Linked DNA regions of Homo sapiens. The protein of the gene in region 1 interacts with the protein of each later gene in a pairwise test. Each region holds a gene or a part of one and is shown on either strand. Other genes may lie near its edges.

Evidence for each region.
Region 2: the proteins of M1AP (region 1) and UBL3 interact in binary tests that used the Homo sapiens proteins (3 or more experiments, as listed by UniProt).
Region 3: the proteins of M1AP (region 1) and LMNB1 interact in binary tests that used the Homo sapiens proteins (3 or more experiments, as listed by UniProt).
Region 4: the proteins of M1AP (region 1) and ZNF740 interact in binary tests that used the Homo sapiens proteins (3 or more experiments, as listed by UniProt).

The regions. Positions count from the first base shown.
Region 1 is NC_000002.12:74,638,322-74,645,347, reverse strand, and holds part of M1AP (meiosis 1 arrest protein), read left to right. Parts: intron 1-239; exon of another isoform or gene 240-260; intron 261-5,020; coding exon of another isoform or gene 5,021-5,072; coding exon 5,073-5,312; intron 5,313-7,026. UniProt on the Homo sapiens protein: Required for meiosis I progression during spermatogenesis.
Region 2 is NC_000013.11:29,847,604-29,854,499, forward strand, and holds the start of UBL3 (ubiquitin-like protein 3), read right to left. Parts: upstream 3,015-6,896; 5' UTR 1,936-3,014; coding exon 1,909-1,935; intron 1,830-1,908; exon of another isoform or gene 1,431-1,829; intron 1-1,430.
Region 3 is NC_000005.10:126,773,059-126,780,141, forward strand, and holds the start of LMNB1 (lamin-B1), read left to right. Parts: upstream 1-4,077; 5' UTR 4,078-4,450; coding exon 4,451-4,809; exon of another isoform or gene 4,810-5,292; coding exon of another isoform or gene 5,293-5,501; intron 5,502-7,083. UniProt on the Homo sapiens protein: Lamins are intermediate filament proteins that assemble into a filamentous meshwork, and which constitute the major components of the nuclear lamina, a fibrous layer on the nucleoplasmic side of the inner nuclear membrane.
Region 4 is NC_000012.12:53,183,710-53,190,735, forward strand, and holds part of ZNF740 (zinc finger protein 740), read left to right. Parts: intron 1-1,181; coding exon 1,182-1,331; intron 1,332-1,677; coding exon 1,678-1,767; intron 1,768-2,244; coding exon 2,245-2,368; intron 2,369-2,681; coding exon 2,682-2,800; intron 2,801-3,791; coding exon 3,792-3,881; 3' UTR 3,882-7,026. UniProt on the Homo sapiens protein: May be involved in transcriptional regulation.

The DNA.
Region 1 (7,026 bases):
CTTCAAGAATGAAGCCGCGGACCCTGGCGGTGTTACAGTTCTTAAAGATGGTGTGTCCGGAGTTTGTTCCTTCTGATGTTCGGATGTGTCTGGAGTTTCTTCCTTCTGGTGGATTCATGGTCTCGCTGGCTTCAGGAGTGAAGCTGCAGACCTTTGCAGTGAGTGTTACAGCTCTTAAGGCGGCGTGTGTGGAGTTTTTCATTCCTCCCGGTGGGTTTGTGGTCTCCCTGGCCTCAGGAGCGAAGCTGCAGACCTTCACGGTGAGTATTACAGCTCATAAAGGCAGTGCGGACCCAAAAAGTGAGCAGCGGCAAGATTTATTGCAAAGAGCGAAAGAACAAAGCTTCCACAGTGTGGAAGGGGACCTGAGCAGGTTGTCCTGCCTCTACTTTAAAATGGCGTTTTCAGATGTGAGAGATGGAGATGGATAATTAAATTTAATTATACATTAAATAAGGCCTCTGACTACCTGTTTGTGTGAATTTCTCTGTGTCAGCTTCAAGTTCAGCATTCCATGTAGAAATTGGCCCCATGTACTTAAAGTACAGTTTAAAAATATGTTATGTGCTTTCTTGGTAAATACATTAGTAATTGATTTGGGTTTCTGGTTCAAGATGACTTTCAACAGATTAGCATATTAATTCATTTATTTTTCTAGCTGTATCCAGCACGTAATTGGAACTCAATTTTTAAAAATGTTGAATGAACAAATGCTGACTTCCACTATCCAAAAAGGGAAGTTTGAAGAGAATAACTTCACTGATTCATTTGGGGAAATACATCTATCTATGTATTTTTTTTTTTTTTTTTGAGACGGGGTCTCGCGCTGTCACCCAGGCTGGAGTGCAATGGCGCGATCTTGGCTCACTGCAACCTCCGCCTCCTGGGTTCCAGCGATTCTCCTGCCTCAGTCTCCTGAGTAGCTGGGATTACAAGCGCGTGCTACCACGCCCGGCTAATTTTTGTATTTTTAGTAGAGATGGGGTTTTACCATGTTGGTCAGGCTGGTCTCAAACTCCTGACCTTGAGATCCACCCGCCTCAGCCTCTCAAAGTGCTCGGATTACAGGCGTGAGCCACTGCGCCCGGCCTATCTATGTATTCTTAGATCATTTTTAAAGATTCTAAATTCCAAAGTGTTTCTGAAAATTATCATAATTATCTTTGTATTGTCACAGGGGAAATCAAATAAGCTTTAATTTTCCCTACATTCTTTAGCTAAAAACAATTATATAGAATGATTTTAGTTCTCAGAGGTGGGGACATATTTTTTAGCTATCTTTTTTATCATATTTCTTTTGTTTTCTTTTGATTGTCCTAATGTTCTTCTTGAAATATTTTTATTATTAAATATAACATATATACAGAAAATGTCATAAAACATGAATGTGTAGTTTAATAGTAGAAAGTGAATACCCAATATCCACAATAAAGATCAAGAAATAGAACATTAGGCTGGAAGTGGTGGCTCATCCCTGTAATCCCAGTACTTTGGGAGGCCAAGGTGGGAGGATTGCTTGAGCCCAGGAGTTTGAGACCAGCCTGGGCAACATGGCAAAACCCTGTCTCTACCAAAAAAACACACAAATTAGAGAGGCATTGTGGTGCATGCCTGTAGTGCCAGGTACTTAGGAGGCTGAGGTGGGAGGATCACTTGAGCCTGGGAGGTGGAGGTTGCAGTGAGCTGAGATTGGGCCACTGCTGCACTCCAGCCTGGGCGATGGAGCGAGACCCTGTCTCAAAAAAAAAAAAAAAAAAGAACATTACCAACACCCCAGGACCCCCTTCTTTTGTCTCTTCTCATCATAATGCCTTCATTCTTTCCTAGGGAAAATCACTACCCTCATTTTTGTGATAATCAATTCTTTGCTTTTCTTTATAATTTTATCACTGTGTATGCACCTCTAAACAATATAACTACTTTTGCTTATTTTTAAAATGTAGATGAAATCATGCTACATGTGTATGTATTCTTTGTGTCTTGCTGCTTTTACTCAATATTATGTTTCTTAGAATCATCCATGTTGCCACATGGAACTGCAGTTCATTCATCTTCATTGCTGTATGTGGAAATATACTATGATTTATCCATTTTAATGTAGATTGACATTTGTGTTTTTTTCAGTTTTGGGTAATTGTGAACAAGATTGTTATTAATAGTCTTTTGGCTGCTATGATCTGACTTTTTTTTCATGTATCCTGTTATATATGATTATTTAAAGATTATATGATTAAGAACAAAAAAAATCCAAAAAGTTCTATAGATAAATTATTATAATTAGTAAGAGAGTGCAGCAAGGTTGTTAAAGTCAATATACAAAAATTAATTATAGCTGGGCACAGTGGTTCATGCCTATAATCCCAGCATTTTGGGTGGCAGAGCCGGTTGGATTGGTTGAGCTCAGAAGTTCAAGACCAACCTGGGCAACATAGCAAGACCCCATCTCTATAAAAGATTGTTTTAATTAACTATATTTCTATACATAAGCAACAAACTAAAAATGAAATTTAAAAAGATGAGAAAGGGAAACTTTGTCATCGATAGTTCTTTGAAATGTAAATTAATATTTAAAAATCAACAGATCCCTAAGACTAAAATTTGACAAAAGACAAGGAGATCTTTTGGGAAAAATTACAAAGCTGTAGATTATTTTAGATTTTCTATATACACAATCATTGGCACACAATGACAGTTTTCTTTCTTCCATTGCAATGCCTTTTATTTATTTGTCTTACCTCATTACTACCTTCACTATAATGCTGAATAGAAGTGATGATAGCATGCTCCTTGTCTTACATGGAAAGCTTTCAACATATCACCATGAAGAATGATGTTTGCTCTCTCTTTTTGTAAATATATTTTGTCAGATTATTCCTATCATCTATTCTTACTCAGTCTTTATCATGCACAAATGCTGGGTTTTAAACAGAGGCTTTTTTGCGTCTATTGGGATGATCATATCATTTTTCTCATTTACTTTTTTAATGTGACGAATTACGTGATTGATATTCTAATGTTATATCAACCTTATGTTCTTGGGATAAACTCAACTTGGTCATGCTGTTTTTTTTTGTATATTATTAGTTTCAATTTCTCTATATTTTATTTAGAATTTTTACAAGTTTATGGGTGAGATTATCCTATAATTTTTTTCTTATTACACCTTTATCTGGTTTCACTTTCAAAGGTCGTGCTAACCTCGTAAAATTAATTGAGGAGGCCAGGTGCCGTGGCTCACGCCTGTAATCCCAGCACTTTGGGAGGCCGAGGCGGGCAGAAGTTCGAGACCAGCATGACCAACATGGAGAAACCCTGTCTCTACTAAAAATACAAAACTAGCCAGGCATGGTGGCACATGCCTGTAATCCCAGCTACTCAGGAGGCTGAGGCAGGAGAATCGCTTGAACCCGGGAGGCGGAGGTTGCAGCGAGCCAAGATCATGCCATTGCACTCCAGCCTGGGCAACAAGAGTGAAACTCCATCTAAAAAAAAAAAAAAAATTAGTTGAGGAGTGTATCCTGTTATATATGTTCTTCTGTTCTTAAAATAATTTGTTTAAGATTGAAATTCTTGGCTGGGCGCGGTGGCTCACACCTGTAATCCCAGCACTTCAGGAGGCCGAGGCAGGTGGATCACTTGAGCCCAGGAGTTTGAGACCATCTTGGGCAACATGGCAAGACCCCATCTCTACAAAAAAAAAAAAAAAGATTGAAATTCTTGGTCTTTGCATGTTTGATGGAGCTCATCAGTGAAATCATCTGACCCTCTTACTTGTGGGAAGATATTTGATTACCAATTACATTTCCTTAATGATTATAGACTATTTAGGTTTCTAAAATTTCTTTAGTATTGGTTAGATACATTTTTCTAGGAATTTGTCCACTTTATCAAACTTATTAGCATAAAGCTATTCATTATGTCCTCCTATAACCCTTTTCACGTTTGAGCATTTGTGATGATGTCCCTTTCTCATTCCTTATATTGGTTCTTTGTTCTCAATTGTTCTCACTTCCTAATCTGAGTCCTGGGGATAAGTATAAGTAGCCAGTAGAGAAAGAAGGCAGGAGTATTGGAGGCAGAGAAGCAGCATGAGCAAATGCACTAAAGTGAATATATTTGGTATTGTTTCCGTGAAAATCTTGAGGCGAAGAACAATTTCTAATGAGGCTAACAATTAAGTAATGACAGGTCTTAAAGACAGTTTAAATTTTACCTTATAAGAGATTCAGACAACCAAAGAATTTTAACCAAGGAGAAATGTAGTCATATTTTCATTTTTAAGAATTATTCGTTAGGTACTAAACACACATATGCTAGGCATTGATGAATAATATCAACAAGACAGGTTCTCTACCCTTGGGAAGCTTACAATATAGTGGGAGAGGCAGTCATAGAAACAAATTGTAATAGAGTGCAATAAATGCCAATAAAGAAACAAAGTTTATGAGGGCAGATAGCTTACTTTGAGACAGAAGCTTGAGTTTTTTGGTGTAACTTTTGATTAGTTCCACTCAGCATCTCTAAGCATTCTCAGGCTTACATGATAGGCAAACATCTAGATCTCTTGGGAGCTGTTAAAATAGGATGGCCTGGGCCAGGTACGGTGGCTCACGCCTGTAATTCCAGCACTTTGGGAGGCCAAGGCGGGCGGATCGTGAGGTCAAGAGATCAAGACCATCCTGGCCAACATGGTGAAACCCCATCTCTAAAAATACAAAAATTAGCTGGGCGTGGTGGTGTGCACCTGTAGTCCTAGCTACTCGGGAAGCTGAAGCAGGAGAATCGCTTGAACCTGGGAGACAGAGGTTGCAGTGAGCCAAGATCGCACCACTGCGCTCCAGCCTGGTGACATACCGAGACTCTGTCTCAAAAAAAAAAAAAAAATAGGATGGCCTGGACAAGCTTTAGTACCCAATCTGACTCCTTTCTGGATTTGTTTCCCTCGACTTGTATTTTATATTTCAACAGAGCACACATAATTCAGTTTGAAAACCAGTGGTTTCTCTTTCCTTCCCTATAGGTGTAAAGAATATCCAGCTGGTGGCTACAGTTCCCCCTCTGGTTTTGCTGCCATGCATCCTGGGCGAACTACTGGTAAAGGGCCCTCTACTCACACTCAGATTGACCAGCAACCTCCACGGCTTCTCATTGTGCACATTGCTCTACCGTCCTGGGCTGACATCTGCACCAACCTCTGTGAGGCTCTGCAGAACTTCTTCTCTCTAGCCTGCAGCTTGATGGGCCCCAGCCGCATGTCCCTGTTCAGTTTATACATGGTACAAGATCAGCATGAGTGCATCCTCCCTTTTGTGGTAAGTATATCTATATTTATTCATTTTACCCTGAAAGCAAATACAGTGGTAAGGTTTCTGGAATAGAGATCACAGTTATTAATACTTATAACAATAACCGCACTACTTCTCCACACACAGTAGCCCCCGAGTAACACCATGAGAGCCAGAGGGCATCCTGCATATATAGGGGTGTGTACTGTTGAAGAGAAAATCCAAAATTATTAATCTGGGAGTATAAATAGGCTACAAGCTCCACTCCAGAGAGAGGGAGAGAAACCTTGGCATTGACAGATGTTTGAAATGTAAACAACTGACTCCTTTTATGCCCTTTGAAATGTAAACACACAAGGAGGGAAGCCTCTAAATCTCTTCTGAGGTCTCTGACTATTCAATCATCTTTTAACTTCCAAGACTTGCCCTTTAACCCAGGTACCAGTTTTCTTTGCTCAGAAAGCCCTAACTATGCAAAAACATGAAAATATTTTTTCTACATTCCACATAGACTCAGGTGAAACTGCCCCCTAGGGTTATGGAAGGCAATGGCTGGGCCAGGGGCAGTGTCTTTACAAAGCTCCTTCATACATAAACAATTATCTATGCTCCTCCTCAAAATTTCAATCTTCCCTTTCTCCCTTGTATAAAATTCAGAATCATAGTGAAGAGAAAGACTTCCAGAGGTTCTATGCATCTCCTTCCTTGAGGTAGCCTTGCTGCTAATATACGTTATCAAATGGATATAAGTCTTATTTAAGATTTCCAAAAGAGGAAATTTCATAAATCCATTGCTGAATTATGAATGTAATATATGACTGAAATCTATTTTTTTATTAATGCCTTAGTTTCCCTCATTGGAAGTGGAAAGATAACATCTCTGTTGATACTATAAAGAATGAAAATAATATATATTACTTCATGCTTCTTGAGTTAGAACATACCCTGGTTGCTTTGACAGAACCTTAGGCTTATAACAACTCATGGTTTATTTCTTGACAAAAGTCACACAGGGAAAGTTTTGAGTATAAATGCTCCAGTGCTAAGTATGGGGATTTTGTCTGTGCATTGTTACTTAGGCTGGGTTGGGGATGGGAAAAGGATAAAATTATTTAAGAAATTCAACTGATCCTTTCTACAGTTTGAGCAGAATTTGGTACCTCTATTCATTGTTTATTGCTGTGTAACAAATTATCCCAAAATGTAGTGGTCTAAATTAATAAACATCATCTCATAGTTACTATGAGTTAGGAATTCATAAGTGGCTTAGGTAGATCAGGCTTGGGGTCCCTCATGAGATTGTAGCCAAGATGTCAGTCATCTGAAAGCTTGATTGAGGCTGGAGGATCCAGTTGCAAGATGGCGTATTCACTTAGCTGTTGGCAGAAATTCTTGTTTCCTGACCACTTGGATCTCTCCAAAGGGCTGCTTGAATGTCCTTAATTTGTGGCAGCGGGCTTCTCCCAGAACGACTGATCCAAAAGAGAGAGAGAGCAATGAAGAAGCCAAAATACCTTTTATGTCTTAGTCTCAAAAGTAACATGTTGTCACTTCCTCCACATTCTGTTCATTGGAAGCAAGTCACTGTTCCACCCTAGATAGAATAACAGCAAGCTGATTTACCCTCTTGCCTCAAACAATAAAAAAAAACTGGATAAAACCTATGAAAAACACTTTTCAAAACACTGGACATCACGCAGCAAAGAACAAAGCCCCCTGGGTGATAGGAAGTCAATGAGGT
Region 2 (6,896 bases), on another chromosome or scaffold:
CCTAAAGGAAGTAGCGGCACTGTTTTAATAACACATCTATTTCATTCCAACGTCTGTGAGAGAATAGACGGTACTTAAGGTTAACCTATTTTGCACTGTGCTTGATGATATAAAATGGAGGCTTTCGAGAGAGCAAATCTTTGCTCGAGGCGATGAACCCACAGATCACTCATCAAACAAGGGAAATAGCATTTCCCAGCTCTGTCTAGAGACCGCTCCCGGCAACTTCAAGAGCAGTATGGAGGAAAGCTTGTCCAGCCGTACTTAACCAGGCAGGAGGCTATTTCATGTGTGCACACCAGAAGAGAAGCGAAAACTAAAAGGACAACGCACGAGTTTTAGGACTCAGGAAGGAGACTGTAAAGCTGTTATGTGGCCACCCCCAGAGACAGAACACTGTGTTTCCTTTGCATTCAATGGGAAATTAAACAAGAGCAAAATTCCTTTAAACCAAGGTCAAAATAAGCCATTTAGAATCATTTAATTTTTGTTATAAAATCTGTATATGAGGTTTGCTCCTCTAGAAACATCTGGCGTTTTAAAATTTAATCATCAGCAGGCTGGGCGCAGTGGCTCACGCCTGTAATCCCAGCACTTTGGGAGGCCAAGATGGGTGGATCATCTGAGGTCAGGAGTTTGAGACCAGCCTGGCCAACATGGTGAAACCCTGTCTCCACAAAAAAAAAAAAAAAAAAAAAAAAAAATTAGCCAGGTGTGGTGGTGGGCACCTGTAATCCCAGTTACTTGGGAGGCTGAGGCAGGAGAATCGCTTGAACCCAGGAGGCAGAGGTTGCAGTGAGCCGAGATCGCGCCATTGCACTCCAGCCTGGGCAACAAGAGCAAAACTCCGTCTCAAAAAATAAAAATTAAATTAAAATTAAATTAAAATTAAAAAATAAAATAAAATTTAATCATCAGCAAAGTTCAATTTGTTTCCACTGAATACACAAACACTCAAATGTTAACATATGTGAGCACAACTACGTTAACTTCAATTCTTTCATAAACAGGATTATTCCTCTTCCTGGTAATTAAATGCATTATGTTTGTCCTTAGGACTGCAAAATGTAACTTCACACTCACACAAGCCCAGCCCCAGCACTGTAAGGTTACACGGTTACTGTTAGTCAACCGACTCACAACCTTACCCTTTATAAACAAAACAAAGAAAGGCGTCAATAAACAACAGTACTTTTTGTTTCAAGTTCTCAACACTCAGTGATCGAGGCTCAATACTATGTTTCCTTAGCTTTATGTCTAATATGGAATCTACTATTAATAAATATCTGGCATTAAAAAGCCCTGGAATATTCATTGTAAGTACCAATACAGGGTCAGCCTACGTTTCTGAAAATCCCAAAATATCTTTATATTTCTGTTGCCATCCGTATTCAGACATTTCAAAAACCTCACAGCAAATTCTAACATACTTTTTCTTGAAGAGATGTGCATCCCTGTTCTTGAAAAATATCAAGTTCGTCCCTACTGCAATGACGATCTCGTCTGTGTCATAAAGCAAGATTCCCGTTTCCCTACCTATTCTCTCGTAGGGACACCCGTCCTCAGCTCTGCCCACTGTCCCTGACGTTTTCAGAAACGTTAAAATACTAGTGTTCGGAGGCTTCTAGCGAAGAGGGAGATGTTTTGTCCCCTCAAGCTACCATGATACATTTCCCTACTTCTCCACTATCTTCAATGCTTTAGAAAACACGACCAAATGAGAGAACCCATATTAAAAGCAGTACTTCCTAAAAGGGGGAAACCAGAAGCTCCAACTTCTCCAAATCGCTCAGCACAGTGGCTTTTCGACAGTCCCCAGCAAATCTTCGCCCCACGCCTGCCGTCTTTCCGATTAAATAAGATTGGAAACCACAATTAAATCAGTGTCATAACTTATCCGTCACTTACCATATCCGCCGGGACATTACTGGACATCTTGCCGTTTGATATACACCCAGATGTTTACGAAAAAAACAAACAAAGAAAAAAGAGCAGAAGTCTTCACGTTACAGAAATAAACCACGATTTTGACTGGTTCGTGATGTGCTTTCTCCCCCAAAAATAAAGTTATTTTGGAGCCAAAGTGCCGGTCAGGCCGAGGTTCTGGTTCGAAGAGGAACAATCCCCAGGAGCTGTGTGGCCGGAGCAGGAGGAAACTCCCGGGACAGCAGAGGCAGCCCCCGTCGTCGTCGTCGTCGTCAACAGCAGCAGCAGCCCCAGGACCGGCCGCGCCAGGTGGACCGAGCCGAGTGACACACGGACATGGAGAGGGGTGGGAGGGGGTTAAATGCGCCTTCCTCCTTTCCCAGCCCCGGCAATGATTCACACTTGCTCCCGAGTCAAGTCCTCATTAAGCAGGAGAAAAATGCCCCAGCGTGGATGTACACAGATAACTATGTAGCTACACATCGACGCGTGAGCCTTGAGTGGCGGCCGAGCGGTGGCCGGACGCTGGCCGCGGACCCTGCAGAGCCGCTGTCGGAGCGCCCGCGCGGACAGCGCGGGGAAACGGCTCAACTCGCGCCGCGGGGGCGAAGAGCCGGGCCGCGGAAACCCGCGCTCAAGGGCATTTAACTAGTTGGAAGCCAAAGCGAAAGACCGGAGCGGGGGACCGACAGCGCGGGGGTGCTCGGGGCCGGCCGGGACACTCCACAGCCCCTCTGGGCTCAGGCCGCGGGCGCCTCCGGACAGCAGCTGGGGTCGGGGCGCATCGTCTCCGGCTCCTCGCCACTCCTCTTCTGCCTCCGCCTTCCCCGCCGCCGCCTCCCCGGTCTCCGCCTTCCCTTCCCCTCCCCTCCCCGGCCTCGCGAGCTCCGGGCGACGCCGACTTCGGCTGGTCCCCGGAAGAGGCCGGGTCCTCCTTCTCCTCAGCCCGGGAATGGTTTCCTCTCAGAGCTTTGTTTCTCCTCCTCCTCCTTCACTTTTCAGTCCCACACGCCGCGGCCGCCTCCTGTCATCGCCTCTCAAACCAACATGGCGGCAGCGGCGGCGGCGGCGGCTGCCTGAGTGCGACTAAGGGAAACGGGGAGAGCACGGGCCCCCCCTCGCAGCAGCCGCCGCCCCCGTCCTCGTCCTCCCTCCGCGGACACCAAGTGCGTCACCACGGAGACCATTCCCTCGAGCATCACGGGAAGTGTAGTCTACGAGGGTGGGGGGGGGAGGGAGCCGCCGAACGCCTCCTCACCCAGCTCCGAAGCCACGCCCCCCATAGCAACAGTTGCGAGGAAAGGAAAGCTCCCTTTCCCTTGCTTTGGACAAGCTGCTGCCCAGGAGTTAAGTGATACCTGCTACCAGGAGTGCTGTGATCATGAGAATTGTTGGGAGAAAATAATTCTGCATAGAGAAATTCCCTTATGCACGATATGCACACAGAGCTAAAATATGCTGTACCTCCAAGCAGAATCATTCATTTTAATTACAGCACATTCTCCACATCCTGCAATCTCAATGCATTTTGTAGAGTGATTTCATCTAGGTCTCCTCAACATTACATTTTGAAGAACAAAAGCAATCATTGATTTCCAATAAGGTCACATAAGTTCAACAGGAACAAGGATCTCATTAAGCAGTGAGAATATTTGAACATGTGTTTCCTTGAAGACCCAGGGCAATAAAGCTACAATCTACTTAACTGAAATTACCAAAACTGTATTACATACAACAGTGTTATTATATCAAATCTGTATCAGGAAATAGCTACTACAAACTTCATGGGGATTCACCAGTTTACCCATCTGGACCCTAAATTCTATTCTATGTAACTCATAATGTAATTGAAAACCTATATGCCTTGCAGTGATTAGCAAATAGGAGAAAATAATGCCATTGTTGAGACACCATTCAGATGGACATTTGTGATTTCTGCATTTTGTTCCTAAATCTGAGGTCAACATCTGAATCCCTATTCATATCTCTTAGTCCTTTGACAGAGTACTTTAGAAAGGGCAGTCTCAATATGATGCCTATATATAAATGCCAATGAATTTAGAGTCTGAAAGCCACCTCTCCAACCTACAGCTGTGTGACCTCATCTGTAAAATGGTCTTGCCTACCTTCCGGGGTAAAGTAGGGGTAGTTATGAGGATGAGTTCATGCATGGGAAATAAATCACTTTGTAAATAATAATGCATCATTTGATATGAAATGTCACTACTCATTCTCTCATTCAGCAAACAAATGTGCCAGGCACTCTGCTAGGCACTAGGAGTTTAAAAATGAGTCACTGTAGCGAACAGCAGCATCATGTGGCAGAAATGCCAAGGTCTTGGGTTGGCAATGGGGGTTATTACATCCTTGTCTATAGGGCTGTTGAAAAGAGGCAGAATCCAGTCACTGTCCTCAGGGAGCTCATTGTCTAGAAGCCTACGTGATTCCCCACAGCAATCTCTCCAGTTGGGTTTCTCATCAGTTGGAAACCCACAGGACATTTAGAGTACCTGCCTCTTGAGTAGCCTGGGTGGAGAAATTCCAAACACTCCTAAGGGCCTATATCACCCTGAGGAAGATAGATCAAATTCTCCGAAAAACCAAAGGCCAGAAGAGAAGAGAGGCCCAAATCTCACTGTGATTAGGCTTCAGGACTTTGTCTAGATATTTCCAAGTCCATAGTTACGTGATTTTCCATGGCCTTTGTTACTTGGTTGCTCATTTGCAATGTTTAGCAACCACAGAGTCCCCCTACCCCTACACCAGCCCCCCAGGAAATAAGGGCAGGTGAAAATACTTCAATTGACCAATGAGCTCAGAAGGAATATTGGAGCACATTTTGAAAGCTCTAACTCACAGAGTTAGTCCCTCCACCATACCCTTGACTCCAACTTTTATCCAATGACCTCCCTGGCCATGGCACTGCCTGGCCATGGCACTGCCGGGCCTAAGTGCCACTGTAAGTAGAAAGGCAAGAGTTGCTGTTTGCTGCAGGTTACCACTGCCACCTTTACAAAAGGCAATGTCTTTCAAAAGTCGCTGTGTTTCCAATTACTCTTCTAAGAGGGGCTGAGACATTATTCTCAATAAAACTCATTATAACTCATCCCTAACATTGTTAAGGCATGAGGTAACATTATTGGACACAGTTGCAGATTTTTCCACTCTTTCTTTTCTCTTTGCTTCCCAGCTCAGGCGGGTGAGGTGGGAGGCTGTAGAAAGGAGTTCAGCTGTCCCAAGCAGGAAAAGGTAGCATCTTCTTGACACCAGGAATCTATTGTCAGCATCAGTTGGAAGAAAGTGAATGACACAGCATTTTTGTAATGGGAAAAATAACTTCATAGGAAGTCAAAAGACCTGGCTCTGCCACGAATTAGTTATGTGACCTTTTGCCTCTCTGAGTTTCAATTTCTTCATCTGAGAAGCTTGAACTAAATCTCTAAGGTCCCTTCTAAGAGTCTATGAGTGTCAAGTCCTGGAAAAATAGGGCATGACACCGATGGCCTGTTAAAAATATCTTCCCTAAGTGACTACTTATGGGTAGGAGGGATTTTGGGGGAACAGGGAAGGTGGAATGATGACAACCTAAAATTAGATTTTGGCGATGGTTGTAGAACTCTGTAAATACACAGGAAACCACTGGATTGTACACTTTAAATGAGTAATTTTTTATTTGTTAAAATGTAGCAAAATACACATAACATAAAATTTAACATCTTAGTCTTTTTTACATTTTCAGTTCAGTGGCATTAAGTACGTTCACACTGTGCAACCACCACCACCATCCATTCACAGAACTCTTTTCATCTTGCTCCCTGAACTCATTAAGCACCAACTCCCCTTTCTGTCTCTCCCAAACACCATTCTACTTTCTGTTTCTATGTTTTTTTACTACTCTGAGTACTTCATATGAATAGAATCATATGGTATTTGTCTTTTTGTGGCTAGCTTATTTCACTTAGAAAAATGTCTTCAAGATTTATCCATATTATAACATGTCAGGATTTCCTTCCCTTGTATGGCTGATTAATTTTCCATTGTATGTATATACCACATTTTATGTATTCATTTATCCATGGATAGACACGTCAATTGTTTCTACCATAGAGCTATTGAGAAATGAGTGGATTTTATAATATGTAAACTATATCTCATACATTTGTTAACAAATATATCTCCCCCATCTACCATGTAAGTGTCTAAAATGGCTCCCATCTTAAGATCATTCCTGAAGGATCTTCTCAAGGAACCTCATGAAGTTAAAATAACTAAATGGAAGAATTACTTTCTGTGAAACCAGTAAACTTTTATCATGTGGTTCTTTAGTTGATTATCTCATGATGCCATGCTCTGTCATTTACAAAGGATCAGAGAGTAGGAAAATGCCATAAGAAGCAGAGACAGCCTTTGCCATCTCCATTCAGTTTTGCTCAAGGCTGGCCTGATCTGCAGGTACCCAGACCCCCAGACACAGTGTGGAGTTTCCTATCAAAGGGCAGCTGGAACCCTATGTGTTCTGGTCATGGCCCAGGGGCAGGGGCCCAGTGTGAGGGCAATCACAACTCTACCCATGCCTAAGGTTCTGCTTTAAGTCTTTTATTTGATTCTAGCCAATGTAAGAGTCACTTCAAAGACTTAGTAAAATTATTCTGTACTTCCCATGAGAAAACTATGTGAAAACCTCTAACATAGAAGGGGTCTCAAGAAATGTTGATTCTGCCACGTGCAGCGGCTCATGCCTGTAATCCCAGCCCTTTGGGAGGCCAAGGCGGGTAGATCACCTGAGATCAGGAGTTTGAGACCAGCCTGGCCAACACAGCGAAACCCTGTCTCTACTAAAAATACAAAAAAAATTAGCTGGGAGTGGTGGCAGACGCCTGTAATCCCAGCTACTCAGGAGGCTGAGGCGGGAGAATCACTTGAACCTGGGAGGCAGAGGTTGCAGTGAGCCGAGATCACGCCACTGGACT
Region 3 (7,083 bases), on another chromosome or scaffold:
AAGTAGCTGGGATTACAGGCATGCGCCACCACGCCCAGCTAATTTTGTATTTTTAGTAGAGACGGGGTTTCTCCATGTTGGTCAGGCTGGTCTCGAACTCCCGACCTCAGGTGATCCACCTGCCTTAGCCTCCCAAAGTGCTGGGATTACAGGCATGAGCCACCGAGCCCGGCATGTGTTTTTTTGTTTTGTTTTGTTTTTGAGACGGAGTCTCGCTGTGTCGCCAGGCTGGAGTGCAGTGACGCGATCTCGGCTCACTGCAACCTCTGTCTCCTGGGTTCAAGAGATTCTCCTGCCTCAGCCTCCTGAGTAGCTGGGACTACAGGCGCGCACCACCATGCCCAGTTAACTTTTTTGTATGTTTAGTAGAGACGGGGTTTCGCCGTGTTGGCCAGGATGGTCTCGATCTCTTCACCTCGTCATCCGCCCGCCTCAGCCTCCCAAAGTGCTGAGATTACAGGCGTGAGCCACTGTGCCCGGCTCCATTTCCATTTTCCTTGAAGGAAATCACGGAATAATTTTCTTAAAGTTATACAGCTATCAGTAGCACATCCTCAATTGTCTGACTCCAAGAAAGTTGTTTTATATAATAGGATATGTATAATGTGAGCCTCTTCAAATAATCTGAAAATTGAGGAACTCTATCAATAGAAAGCTTCAGGCCGGGCGTGGTGGCTCACGCCTACGATCCCAGCATTTTGGGAGGCTGAGGCTGGTGGATCACGAGGTCAGGAGTTGGAGACCAGCCCGACCAACATGATGAAACCTCGTCTCTACTAAAAATACAAAATTAGCCCGGTGTGGTGGCGCAGGCCTGTAATCCCAGCTACTCGGGAGGCTGAGGTAGGAGAATCGCTTGAACCCTCCAGGAGGTAGGAGATGGAGGTTGTGGTGAGCTGACATCGCGCCACTGCACTCCAGCTTGGGCAAGAAGAACGAAACTCTGTCTCAAAAAAAAAACAAAAACAAAAACAAAAAACAAAGCTTCATGGGGTTGAGAGCAATAGAGATCATTGCTGGAATCACATATAATCTTAAAACTTAAAAAATGGACAGGAAATAATTTTAAAAGAAAACTGACAATTTTTTTTTTTTTTTTTTGAGACGGAGTCTCGCTCTGTCGCCAGGCTGGAGTGCAGTGGCGCGATCTCGGCTCACGACAACCTCCGCTTCCCGGGTTCAAGCCATTCGCCTGCCTCAGCCTCTCGAGTAGCTGGGACTACAGGCACGTGCCACCACGCCCAGCTATTTTTTTTTTTTTTTTTTTTTGTAGTTTTAGTAGAGACGGGGTTTCACTATGTTGGCCAGGATGGTCTCCATCTCTTGACCTCGTGATCCGCCCGCCTCGGCCTCCCAACCAAGTATTTTTAAAAGACAGGTAAAGGGGAGCAAGGAATGAAAACCATAAAACCATATGGATTGACTATATCACCTGTCGTAGTGGAAAGGGTCTCACAACCAAGTGAGAACAAGCAGATTTACATTCCAATCCTGGTTCCACAGCCTGGGACCCAGCACTCACCTTCTTTTGGTCTAATTTCCTCATCGGTAATTTATTTTATTTAACTTTAAAAAATTTTTTTTATTTTTTTGCAGATAGGGTCTTGCTTTGACGCCTAGGCAGTGTCGCAATCTCAGCTCACTGCAACCTCTGCCTCTGAGGTTCAAGCGATTCTCCTGCCTCCTGCCTCAGCCTCCGGAGTAGCTGGGACTACAGGCGCGCGCCACCACACCCCGCTAATTTTTGTATTTTCAGTAGAGGCGGGGTTTCACTATGTTGACAGGCTGGTCTGGAACTCCCGACCTCAAGTGATCTGCCCACCTCGGCCTCCCAAAGTGCTGGGATTACAGGCTGAGCCACCACACCCGGCCGGTTTTCTCATCAGTAATTTAGATTTTAAAGTTCCCTTTAAGATTACTTGAATACTTAAAGTCTAAGCTTTTCGATTCTTTATTTCTCAATGAGGTTAAGAAAGGAAGTATTTCATGGCCAGGCGCGGTGGCTCACGCCTGTAATTCTAGCACTTTGGGAGGCCGAGGCGGGCGGATTGCCTGAGATCAGGAGTTCGAGGCCAGCCTGGGCAACACGGTGAAGCCCAGTCTCTACTAAAATACAAAAAATTAGCCGGGTATGGTGGCGTTGGTCCCAGCTACTCAGGAGGCTGAGGCAGGAGAATCGCTTGAACCCGGGAGGTGGAAGTTGCAGTGAGCTGAGATTGTGCCATTGCACTCCAGCCTGGGCGACAGAGCAAGACTCCGTCTCCCTGCCATCCTCCCCCCCACCCCCCCACCCCCCAAAAAGCAAGGAAGTATTTTAGGAAACCGGACAGGAAATAGAACCATTAATAAGGAGAATGTCATCATTCACAGAGTGCCAAAAATTCATCTGGGATGAATATGCAGCTCCCAGTGCTCTTCACTAATTCTTATGTACATGACTTGATTAACAGTTAAAGAATATCCTGGTCTCCATTTCTGCCATTTTAAAAGTAAGTAACCATTAATTACAGAAGCGTTCCTAATAGGTGGTAAGGTGGTCATCTAGGGTATAGCTAAGGGCCAGACTCGAGTCAATTAGAATCCTGGGACCTGTCAAACGCAGTCCTGCGGAGCAGCCTTCAGACAGTGAATCTATAAAATGGATGGTTTCTTTCTTTCTTTTTTGAGACGGGGTCTCCCTGTCACCCAGGCTGGAGTGTAATGGTGCCATCTCGGCTCACTGCAACTTCCCCTTTCCGGGTTCAAGGGATTCTCCCACCTCAGCCTTCCAAGTAGCTGAGATTACAGGCACCCGCCATCATGCCCGGCTAATTTTTGTATTTTTGTAGAGACGGGGTTTCACCATGTTGGTCAGGCTGGTCTTGAACTCCTGAGCTCAGGTGATCCTCCCCCACTCGGCCTCCCAAAGTGTTGGGATTATAGGCGTGAGCCACCGCGCCCGCCCGGATGAATTTTCAAATAGAAACAATCCAGTTTCCCACATCACACGGAGATTGTGTGGATGGGTAATCCATGAAAAGCCTGGTGCTGGCACTCAGTCCCAATAAATGTTAGCTAAAAATTAGGAACTTTTCAAAGGGATGAATGTGCTTTCTAATAGAAGTAGCTGCCAGTGACATCTTGGGAGCCTCTTTTTAAAAGCAAAAAATTATTTCATCTTAAATTTTCACAAGTTCAGATTTTTATGTACCTGATTTTAACGGAGTATGAAACAGCTTGCTCTCGTAGTTACTCACCGTCATATGTTAATCGTATCATTTCTGAGCTGTTTTTTGATTTTACAAACCCTTAAATTAAGAAACGGATTAGGAACCGCCCATTAACACTGTTGGCAAATGATTTAAAATCAGGGTTGCTGGTTTTTCTGTGATAATCTATCGGCTTCAAGACGCACAGATCTCACTTTCATGGAAAGAAGTTGCCTGATACAGTTTTCCACCGGAGAGAAAAATAAAGGCTGGTACTTGGAACCTGCAAGCCGTGCATTTGGAACCTCGGACTCAAGTGCCTATTACGTAATTCCACAGCGTCCCGGCCTCCAGGCCGTTTCCCGAGCCCTCCAGCGGAGCGGGGGATAAGGTTACCACGCCCGCGGTGGCCGGGGACACTCTGAGTTTCGCGTGTGGCTTTTAGGGACGTTTATATTTGAATTTCCCTGAACCGCCGAGTGTGGGCGGTGGCGCAGATCCGTCCCGGAAACCTCCGGGCTCCTTCCCGCCTTTCTCAGGCCCGGCCCCTCCAAGGGGTCCCCGCGGGGCGGCGGGAGGGCCCTGGGCCCAGAGCCGCGCGGGTGGGCAGTCCCAGGCGTCCTTCCTTACAGCCCTGAGCCTGGTCCGGGAACCGCCCAGCCGGGAGGGCCGAGCTGACGGTTGCCCAAGGGCCAGATTTTAAATTTACAGGCCCGGCCCCCGAACCGCCGAAGCGCGCTGCCTGCTCCCCATTGGCCCATGGTAGTCACGTGGAGGCGCCGGGGCGTGCCGGCCATGTTGGGGAGTGCGGCGCCGCGGCCCGCGCCACCTCCGCCCCCCGCGGCTTGCCTCCAGCCCGCCCCTCCCGGCCCTCCTCCCCCCGCCCGCCGCTCCGTGCAGCCTGAGAGGAAACAAAGTGCTGCGAGCAGGAGACGGCGGCGGCGCGAACCCTGCTGGGCCTCCAGTCACCCTCGTCTTGCATTTTCCCGCGTGCGTGTGTGAGTGGGTGTGTGTGTTTTCTTACAAAGGGTATTTCGCGATCGATCGATTGATTCGTAGTTCCCCCCCGCGCGCCTTTGCCCTTTGTGCTGTAATCGAGCTCCCGCCATCCCAGGTGCTTCTCCGTTCCTCTAAACGCCAGCGTCTGGACGTGAGCGCAGGTCGCCGGTTTGTGCCTTCGGTCCCCGCTTCGCCCCCTGCCGTCCCCTCCTTATCACGGTCCCGCTCGCGGCCTCGCCGCCCCGCTGTCTCCGCCGCCCGCCATGGCGACTGCGACCCCCGTGCCGCCGCGGATGGGCAGCCGCGCTGGCGGCCCCACCACGCCGCTGAGCCCCACGCGCCTGTCGCGGCTCCAGGAGAAGGAGGAGCTGCGCGAGCTCAATGACCGGCTGGCGGTGTACATCGACAAGGTGCGCAGCCTGGAGACGGAGAACAGCGCGCTGCAGCTGCAGGTGACGGAGCGCGAGGAGGTGCGCGGCCGTGAGCTCACCGGCCTCAAGGCGCTCTACGAGACCGAGCTGGCCGACGCGCGACGCGCGCTCGACGACACGGCCCGCGAGCGCGCCAAGCTGCAGATCGAGCTGGGCAAGTGCAAGGCGGAACACGACCAGCTGCTCCTCAAGTGAGTGCTAGCTGGCGGCCGCGTTAGCGCCAAGGAGGGGCGGGGGCGCAACCGCGGCGACCAGCTCACCGGGTTCTGCCGTGGGGAGGGAGCAGAGGCCAGGATGCACGCGTCCTTCTGAAGGAACAGGGTCTCGGTCTCCGGAAAGGAGAAAGAATCTAGAGTTCATAGCGGAGCAGGGGTCGCGGAGGGGGCTCGAGCTGTAGCGCTGGGGGGCCGTGATGCCCATTTCTAGATTTTGGATACCCGCTGGGACGTGGTAAGTGCGCGCCTGGGACTGCCGAGAAGGAGCTCCCGCTTTCGCACTCGAATCCGGGGAGCCGGCGCGGAGAGGCGGCCCCTCAGGCCCCAGGTGCGGGGAGCTGGAGCGCGAGCGCGCGCTCGCGTGCGCGCCCCAGTTTCCGGCCGGCGCGAGACAAAGCGTCTAGCGGATTTGCAGTGCCGGGATGGGCGGCCGGGGAGGACTGGCAGCCCGCCTCTAGAATGAATGAGCTTCGCGCGGGCAGAGAGAGGAAGGGGAGGGACCTTCCCGCAGCATCCGCGTCTCCTGGGGGTGGGTCCCGCTTTGGCGCGCTCAGTCTTGGCCCTGTGACGTTTTGCGAAGATTCTACGCCTGCTTTAGGCGGGAGAGAGAGGCGGAGCTTGATCCGTGCGCCTCCAGCCAGCCCCGGGCAAGTTAGGTTTGCTAGCTGGTTAGCTTTCTCTGGGGAAATGTGTCCTGTCCCAGCGGGGATGGTGCGGTCCCTCGGGTGGTTCTGCGCAGGGAAGGAAAGCTGGGTTTGTGCATGTCACGGCTACCGTTCTTAGAATTGCGGTTCTCCTACCCCTCAGGCAGCGGCCCTCTGTCCCCAGCTTTTGCCTCCTCGTAGTATAGTCAGGCTTTCGGGTAGAGACTGTGCTTAGTACCCCTTAGTCGACCACTGTGCAGATAGTAGACCAGGGCAGGTGACAGGGTGCTGTGTAAATGCTGAGTGTTTGAGCGAAGGAGAGTTTGTAATTCACCTAAGCGAGTGCGAGTTTTCATTCCAGTGCACAAGGATACATTTGCAGACCTTTGCTGGCCTTATTTTGACTTTCTGATAAGCAAAATGGCCTGTCATCAGTAGGCAACAAGTGTTGATGTCATGCTTTAGAGATTTGCAAAATTTGGGTCTGAAATTCATGGTCGCCATTAGCACTGCCAGCTGAAATTTCTGGAGGTACCTTATTCTCACTTTGACACCCTTTGCCCCTGGATGTCTTTCTGTCTGTATCTGCGTGAATGTCCCTGTCCGAAGTCTCTGAGATTTTGTGTATTTTTACTTATCCCTCCTATCATATGTTTTCGGTTCATAAAAAAGCATGTGCACGTGGTAAGAATAAAATAGTATAGACTGGTTTGTAGCGAAAAACGATAACTGCACTACCTCTTTCCGGAGGCAATCACATTTATCCCTTTTTGTTTTTATTTCTTTGGATATTTAGTTATACAACTCGAAAATAATACTAAGCTTGTATTTCCCTTTCTTGGATTTACTAAGCCTTGGTTTCATCTTTTAAAATGAGCAGTCAGTTAACTCACACTATTATTTCTATGTTCCTCCAAATTTTTTGCCACTGAATTCCTTCAAATCTTAGATATCGTTGCTTGTAAGACTTGCCATTATTATGTGTACCACTAAGAAAATAAAAACATCAGGACCAACTGTGTAGGATCCATCCTGTTGGACCCATCATGATGGGTTTCATAGATATTAAAATGTCAAACAGGGCCGGGCGTGGTGGCTCACGCCTGTAATCCCAGCGCTTTGGGAGGCGAGGTGAGCGGATCACTTGAGGTCAGGAGTTCGAGACCAGCCTGACCAATATGGTGAAACCCCGTCTCTACTAAAAATACAAAAATTGGCCGGACGCGGGGGCTCACGCCTGTAATCCCAGCACTTTGGGAGGCCGAGGCGGGCGGATCACGAGGTCAGGAGATCGAGGCCATCCTGGCTAACAAGGTGAAACCCCGTCTCTACTAAAAATACAAAAAATTATCCAGACGTGGTGGCATGCATCTGTAGTCTCAGCTACTTGGGAGGCTGAGGCAGGAGAATCGCTTGAACCCAGGAGGCGGATATTGCAGTGAGCTGAGATTGCGCCATTGCACCCCAGCCTGGCGACAGAGTGAGACCCCATCTCAAAAAAGAAAAAAAATCCGGGCGTGGTGGCGGGCGTCTGTAATCCCAGCTACTGGGGAGGCTGAGGCAGGAGAATCGCTTGATATCCAGGAGGCAGAGGCTGCAGTGAGCC
Region 4 (7,026 bases), on another chromosome or scaffold:
TCAGTTGCAATTGGTAAATACTTAGGGAGTTTAAAATCTAAAGGGAGAAATAGCCTGTAGTCCCAGGACCTTAGGAGACTGAGGCTGGAGGATTGTTTAAGCTCAGGAGTTCCACACCAGCCTAGGCAACATGGTGAAACCCCGTCTCTATAAATACAAAAAAAAATAGCCGGGTGTGGTGGCATTCTCCTGAAGTCCCAGTTACTCAGGAGGTAGAGGTAGAAGGATCGCTTAAGCCAGGGAGGTCAAGAGTGCAGTGAGCCGAGATCGTGCCACTGCACTCCAGCCTGGGCGACAGAGTGACACCCTGTCTCAACCAACAAGCAAAAAATGAAACAAACCGATAGAAAATACAGTTGGCACCAGCAAGATCTGCCAATCAAAAGTGGGCTCTGAAGCTAAGGGGTGTGTGTGTGTGTGTGTGTGTGTGTGTGTGTGTGTGCGCGCGCGCGCTCTGAAGCTAAGGGGTGTGTGTGTGTGTGTGTGTGTGTGAGTGACGGAGGGATTCTCGCTCTGTTGCCCAGGCTGGAGTGCAGTGGCGCGATTTCGGCTCACTGCAGCCTCCGCCTCCCGGGTTCAAGCAATTCTTCTGCCTCAGCCTCCCGAGTAGCTGGGACCGCAGGTGTGTGCCACCACACCTGGCTAATTCTTGTATTTTTAGTATAGACAAGGTTTCACCTATTGTCCAGGCTTGTCTCGAACTCCTGACTTCGTGATCCGCCCGCCTCATTCTCCCAAAGTGCTGGGATTATAGGTGTGAGCCACTGCACTCGGCCCAGCTGAGGGCTGTTGAGGGAGGAAGGAGGAAGGTCCTGAAGGAATCTCCTGTGTCAGTGGGTTAGCAAGATGGAACCTCATACCCACTCACAGTTAAGGCCTAGAAATACCTTCAAAGAAATATGTAGCCACACACTGCCTAGTGCTGATGACAAAGGTGTCAGTAATACTTGATTATTTACTTGATCTATATTTAAATGCTGAAGGATGACAAGATAAGTCGTTCCTGGTGAGATGAGTTAGGGAGGACTCTTGAAGGAAGCAAGGCTTTGGCAGTGAGGAGGGACATTCCCTGGAGAGAAGCAGTTTGTAGCAGGGTGTAAAAGGTAGTTCTATAGAGGATGGCAGTCTGTTTTTGCCCTGCCCTGCCAGGTGACCTGACACCTCATCTCCTTTCAACTTAGGCAAGTCTCCTGGCTTGTGAAGGCCTAGCAGGTGTGAGTTTGGTTCCCACTGCAGCCAGCAAGAAGATGATGCTGAGCCAGATTGCCAGCAAGCAGGCCGAGAATGGCGAGCGGGCAGGTAGCCCTGATGTGCTGAGGTGCTCGAGTCAGGTACAGCGCTTGAGTCCATTGTGGCACCTGGGGATCGGGTGGCCCAAGCTCTCTGCCAGGAGATACCAAGCTCTGATTCCTTGATGCTTCCTCATAGGGAAGTGGGGCAAGGGGATCCAACTGGGGAATGGATGAACATTGGTATTTCAGAAAGCTAAGGAAGGTCTTTTGTGTGCCTTCAACTCTTTTAAGACCAGGTGCTTGGAGAGGAAATAGTTGTATACTTCCTCTAAGCTTTCGGGGCAGGTGGTTTACTCTCATTTATGAATTTTGTCTGAGAGCTGCATTGGGTCTCATCTCATGTTCCGAGATGGGCTATGAGTTTAGATTTGATTTGTCTTCAAAGGGTCACCGAAAAGACAGTGATAAGTCCCGGAGCCGCAAAGATGATGACAGCTTGTCTGAGGCCTCTCATTCAAAAAAGACTGTTAAAAAGGCAGGTAATGGGGTGATCCCCCAAACTCATACAGTTTGGTAATGGGGTAATATTCCTCCTTCTTCCCTCTACCATGTAACCTGGAGCTTTCCCTAGATGCTTTGATCTCTGATAGCCAGTGAGTGAGTCCCCCAGATTTCATCCAGAGACTACCTTGGTAGTTGATCTCCTGCCTTGCTGGAACAGTAATGGTACAGGTTGGGGAGCATGAGATCCCAGATCCCGAGGCATGGGAGCAGGCAGGCTCCAGCTCAAGTCATACTCAGACTGCTGGGTTTGACAGGATAGACAGCTTACCCACTCCACCTCCTTCCCCAAAGGGTCTCTTACCTCCATGGAGTACAGGAGATGGCAGCACCTTTAGACAGCATCAGAGAGGTTCCTTTCTCCAACAGCTGGAAGTGGACCCAGAGTAGAACAGTGTCTCCAGGAAGAGGGCAGTGGTGGCCTCATGACATGCCTGATTATTGCCCCCAGGTGGTGGTAGTGGAACAAAATGGTTCTTTTCAAGTAAAGATTCCCAAAAATTTTGTTTGTGAACACTGCTTTGGAGCCTTTCGGAGCAGTTACCACCTAAAGAGGCACATCCTTATTCACACTGGTAAGTCTCTTGTTTATATTCAAAAGGGGGAGAATAGTCTATCGCTTGTATTCCATGTCTGTTTGTGGCTCTAGTTGGGTTTATTTTAATGGGTAAGTATTAGAAATGAAGGAAGAAGATAAGTCAATGAAGCAGAGAGATTGCATGGCTTTGTATCTGGTGTCACTGAGACCAGCACCTTTGGGGACCTCTCCCCATTTATGATCACTTAGGTGTCTACACATTACTAAGAGTTAAAGTTTCTGAGAAAACTGGAATGAGGTCCCTACTGTACATACCTCCCCACATTCACTTCTCTGTCCACCTGGGCCAGGTGAGAAGCCATTTGAATGCGATATATGTGATATGCGTTTCATCCAGAAGTACCACCTGGAACGCCACAAGCGTGTGCACAGTGGTGAAAAGCCTTACCAGTGTGAACGGTGTCATCAGGTAAGGCTCATCCCTGCTACAATACCCCACACACACTTTTCCTTCCCCAAGAATCAGGGCCACCCTCCACTCCTGCCTGACAAAAGAGCCACCAGCGTTACTCGCCATAATAGTTAACACATCGGGGTGAAGTGCATCTGTCTGGCCTTATGCAGCTGATCATGGGGAGCAGCAATTAGAACATTGTAATAATAATAATAATAGCATTCCATATCACTTACTCTATGCCAGGCACTGTGAGAGCATACTTTACATAGATGATTTTATTTAATCCTCACATTGACTCCCTAAGGTAGCTGTATTGTCCTTATTTCACGTATGGGAAAATTGAGATTCAGAGAAGTTAAGTTTCCCAGGGACACCGCAGATCACGAACAGAGCTGGGATTCAGTCCAACTTCAGAGCTAATGCACTTTGGAGGAAGAGATACAATCTTTGCCCTGGGGGTCAGTATCTGATCTGATGAGAATGTAAGAGCTGGGGCCAAAACAAGACAAGAACAAGAGATGAGAAATGATAATAGCTAACACTTCCTGGATGCATTGCTAGGTCCCAAGCTTTGCTCTGCACTCTTACACTGAATCTTCAGACGCTAGAATAAAAGCTCCATGAGGGCAGAGACTTTGTTCCTCTGGTTCTCTACTCTGTATCTGCCTTGAGATAGATACTCAATAAATCTTTGATGAATAAAGCAGCTGTGCTGTGAGTAGGTACTTTTAGCCTCGCTTTGCAGTTTTGCAGATGAGTATGCAGATTCTGGGCTGTTAGGTAACTTGCCCAAGGTCACACAGCTGCTGAGTGATAGAGCCAAGATTCAGCCCCAGGCGGTCTGGCCTGAGAGCTTGGATTCTCCACCACCGTGTGCTCCTGCTGTCTGTGCACGTGCTGAGGGGATGGAGAATGTGGTATCTGCCTCCTGTGAGAGGAATGAGTTAGCCAACAGGTAGCTGCGTTTGTCTGCTCAGGCACTTAACCCTCCCTTTCTTCTCAGTGTTTTTCTCGGACAGATCGATTACTCAGACACAAACGGATGTGCCAAGGGTGCCAGTCCAAGACTTCCGACGGGCAGTTTTCTCTATAGGCGCAAGGGGCCCCGGGTGGTGGGAGTGATCAGAAGAACCTGCCGAAGAGCACACCCCCTCTGGTCTGATGGTCCCACCACCGCCCCATGTGAACCTGTCCCACTCCTGGAGGAGTGGACCCAGGAGACCAGAAGAGTGCATCAGGGGACAGTGGCCCCAGAACCTCAGCTCTGTAAATAATCTGAGACTATGAGTATCTCGGGGAAGTTCTTACAGCATTCCTGGGTAGGGGAGCTAGTCCCTGGACCCTTGGCTGAGGTCATAGGTGGGGACTCAAGGTACAGGACCAAGACTGAAGTGTGGCTCCCACAACCTTGGACTCCAGCTGGCAGCTGAAATGGAAAAGATTGGGGAAGGGGATTTGTTTGTTCTGTTCTTGTTTTTGTTTATCCAAAAGCAACTTCAGCGGGTAAACTGTGGATACAGGTAATCCAGAGGCATAAGAGTCCTGGTCCAAAGTAGGGACTATAGCTGGTCCAGCTCTCCCCAAAAATTGGGTTTTTAGTTGCAGTAGCTCCTCAGTGTTTCACAATCCTGCACTTCGCCTCCTTTTTGAGGAAGAATAAGGTCAGGAATGGCAGCTGAGCTTACTTTGGCTTCCTTATACACTGTAGGGACAAAAGGAAAAACGGGGTGGAGCAGACAAGGGCTGGATCCAAAAAGTGGATGGCACCTCTTCCTTCCTCAAGGGAAAAGGAAGAGTTGTGCCAGTGGGTGTTGTCATGGCCCATGTCACATTGGCACCTGATGGCATCAGCTCAAATGCCTTTAGGAGGAAACTTGGGTGAGAGTGGCCCATGAAGCCCTTTTCTTCTTTTTTTGGGGAGTCGGTCTTGGAGATGGTATGTGGCTACCTCGCTGCCATTGACTCCTAAAGTGAGACAGATGTGTTGAGCAAGGAGTCATGGAAGTCAAAGTGGGTTCTCTCTCCTTGTGCCCTCTTAGGAACAACCCAAGACTGGTCCCAAGTTGGCTAACAGCTGCTCAAGAAACAAAGGAATCTGGGGTCTTCTGACATGCCTGTTGAGCAGTAGGAGCTGTTCTCCCTCCCCAAGTCCTATCACTGTATTCAGGTAGAGGAGGTAGGGAGGGGTCTGTCCTTTGGTCCCAAAAAACAAGATCTCGGCTTGCTTCCTGATGGCCATCCCTACCCAACAGAGTGTGGGGGATGGGGGTGGGGGTGCTGCAGAGAAAAGACTAAAGAAGAAACCTAATGTAGGTTCCATTCTTAACCATATTCTTTGCTCCTCTCTGCTCCAATACCACCACCTTGTCCACTCCCAAAAAAGTAATCGGGTGTGTGTGTGTGTGTGAGAGAGAGTGTGTGTGAGATATGAATGCATGTATTTGTATGCTTGCAGGAGATGGCATATTATTGAGCCAAACCCTTCTCTGGCCCTCACCTTCAGGGAGGATGAGTGGAAAATAGCCTCCTCTTGCCCAAACATGAAGGGTGCTTGAGGTCTCAGCAGGAGCTGAAGAACACAATTTGGGGAACAGAAGGGCTTTTGTTTTGGAGGGTTTTTTTTTTTAAGATGAATTCAACAGCCTGGTGGTTAGGATGTTTCTAACCCAAGCCAGGGCTTGTGAACATGAATTTTCTAAGGTGAAATAAACCTTTTCTTTCTGCTAAAGAAAGAATCCTTATGGGAAGTTTTGGGGTTTGGTTGACCCCCACTGTAACCTGACCTGACCTGTGGCGGGTACGGGAACTGTCTTAGTAATCATGGAGACTGGCTGAACCTGAGTGCCAAGCTGTCAGTAGGGTCTGAGATGGGAAACTCCTGAAAGTATGATTTCATTTCCCAGAAAATGTAAAGAATGGATACCAGCAATGATTCCTGGCTGTTACCTATTCTGGAGGGGTGGGGTTGGGGAGGGGGTTGTCCATACCTCTGTGGTATGAGTATTTCAGGGAAAAAGAAAGCAGGCATGGCACCCATTCGATTTTCCCTGACAGCATCTGAGATCCTTTTGGGGAGACGCTGAGGAGTGTTTGCTGCCATGTACTCTTACAGCTCTATGCTGACACTCCCATTTGATGTGGTCCAGAACTTAGACCTCAGTCCTTGGATCAGCCCTGTGGTCCCTGCAAGCAGGGGCATCTTTCTGCATGTGAGCCAGCCCCCTTCCTGTTCAAGGGTTCTGCTGGATCTGGGCTTTTCCTGTCCTTCACTTCTGGGATGATTCACCCCACATCTTCCAGTACCCTGTAAACCATTTTAAAATATTTAGAAAACTATCCTCCCAAAAATGCTTTTGAAAATGAGAGCCCTCTGTCCCTGCCACTTACAGCTAGTCTCTTTGGGATAGGGGTGTATGTGGAGAGATTCATGTAAGTCTCACATGAGTGACCTGTGCCCCTATGTGTACTAATGTGTGTACTGGGTCAGAAGGTGCCCTGGGTTCCCACAGACCTTGGTTTCCTGCCTGGGTGGGTGGGAGGGAGGGAACTTCAGAGAGTATGTGCGAACAGCCATAGCAGAGCCACCCCTGCCAAGGACCCAGTGAGGGAAACTCAGGAGCAGGTGGTTGGTTCAGTTCCCGCGCTGATGTCTGGGGCAGTGCATGTGTGAGAAGAGAGGCGCAAAGCAGTGAAAGGAGTGATTTGGCATCCAGAGGGCCCGGGAGCCCCACGGATACCCCAGGGAAGCCACTGACTCACACCGCTGCAGAGGCTCCTGGGCCCAATGCCCGACCCCTGCTGGCCAGCATGGGGCCTAGCACTGGAAGATGCCTCAGGTGTGTTTGGAGTGGGGGAAACGGAAGTAGGGCACGCTCTCAGAGACCAGGATAGAGAGTCAGGGAACCTGGGAAAGAGTAGTGCCAGTTCCGGGTAGGCTGCTGCACCAGGCCCTACCAGCTCAGGCTATAAACAGTCTGCTTTGCCCCAAGTCTTTTCCGTCCACCCCCAACAGCCTTGTCATCACTTAGCTACTGATCACGCCCATGGCTTGACATTGGAGGGTTACATTAGTGGAGTCCGCCACAGCTTCGAACCCTCTCCCCAGATGCCCTTTGCCTCTGCTGTGGCCCTGGGGTTTTATCAACTGTCCCCTTCCTATCCTCCTCTCCACCCTGTTTTTTGTTTTTTTTTTTTTTAAATAATATTTTGCTATGGGGGAGGGGAATATCAAATGGACA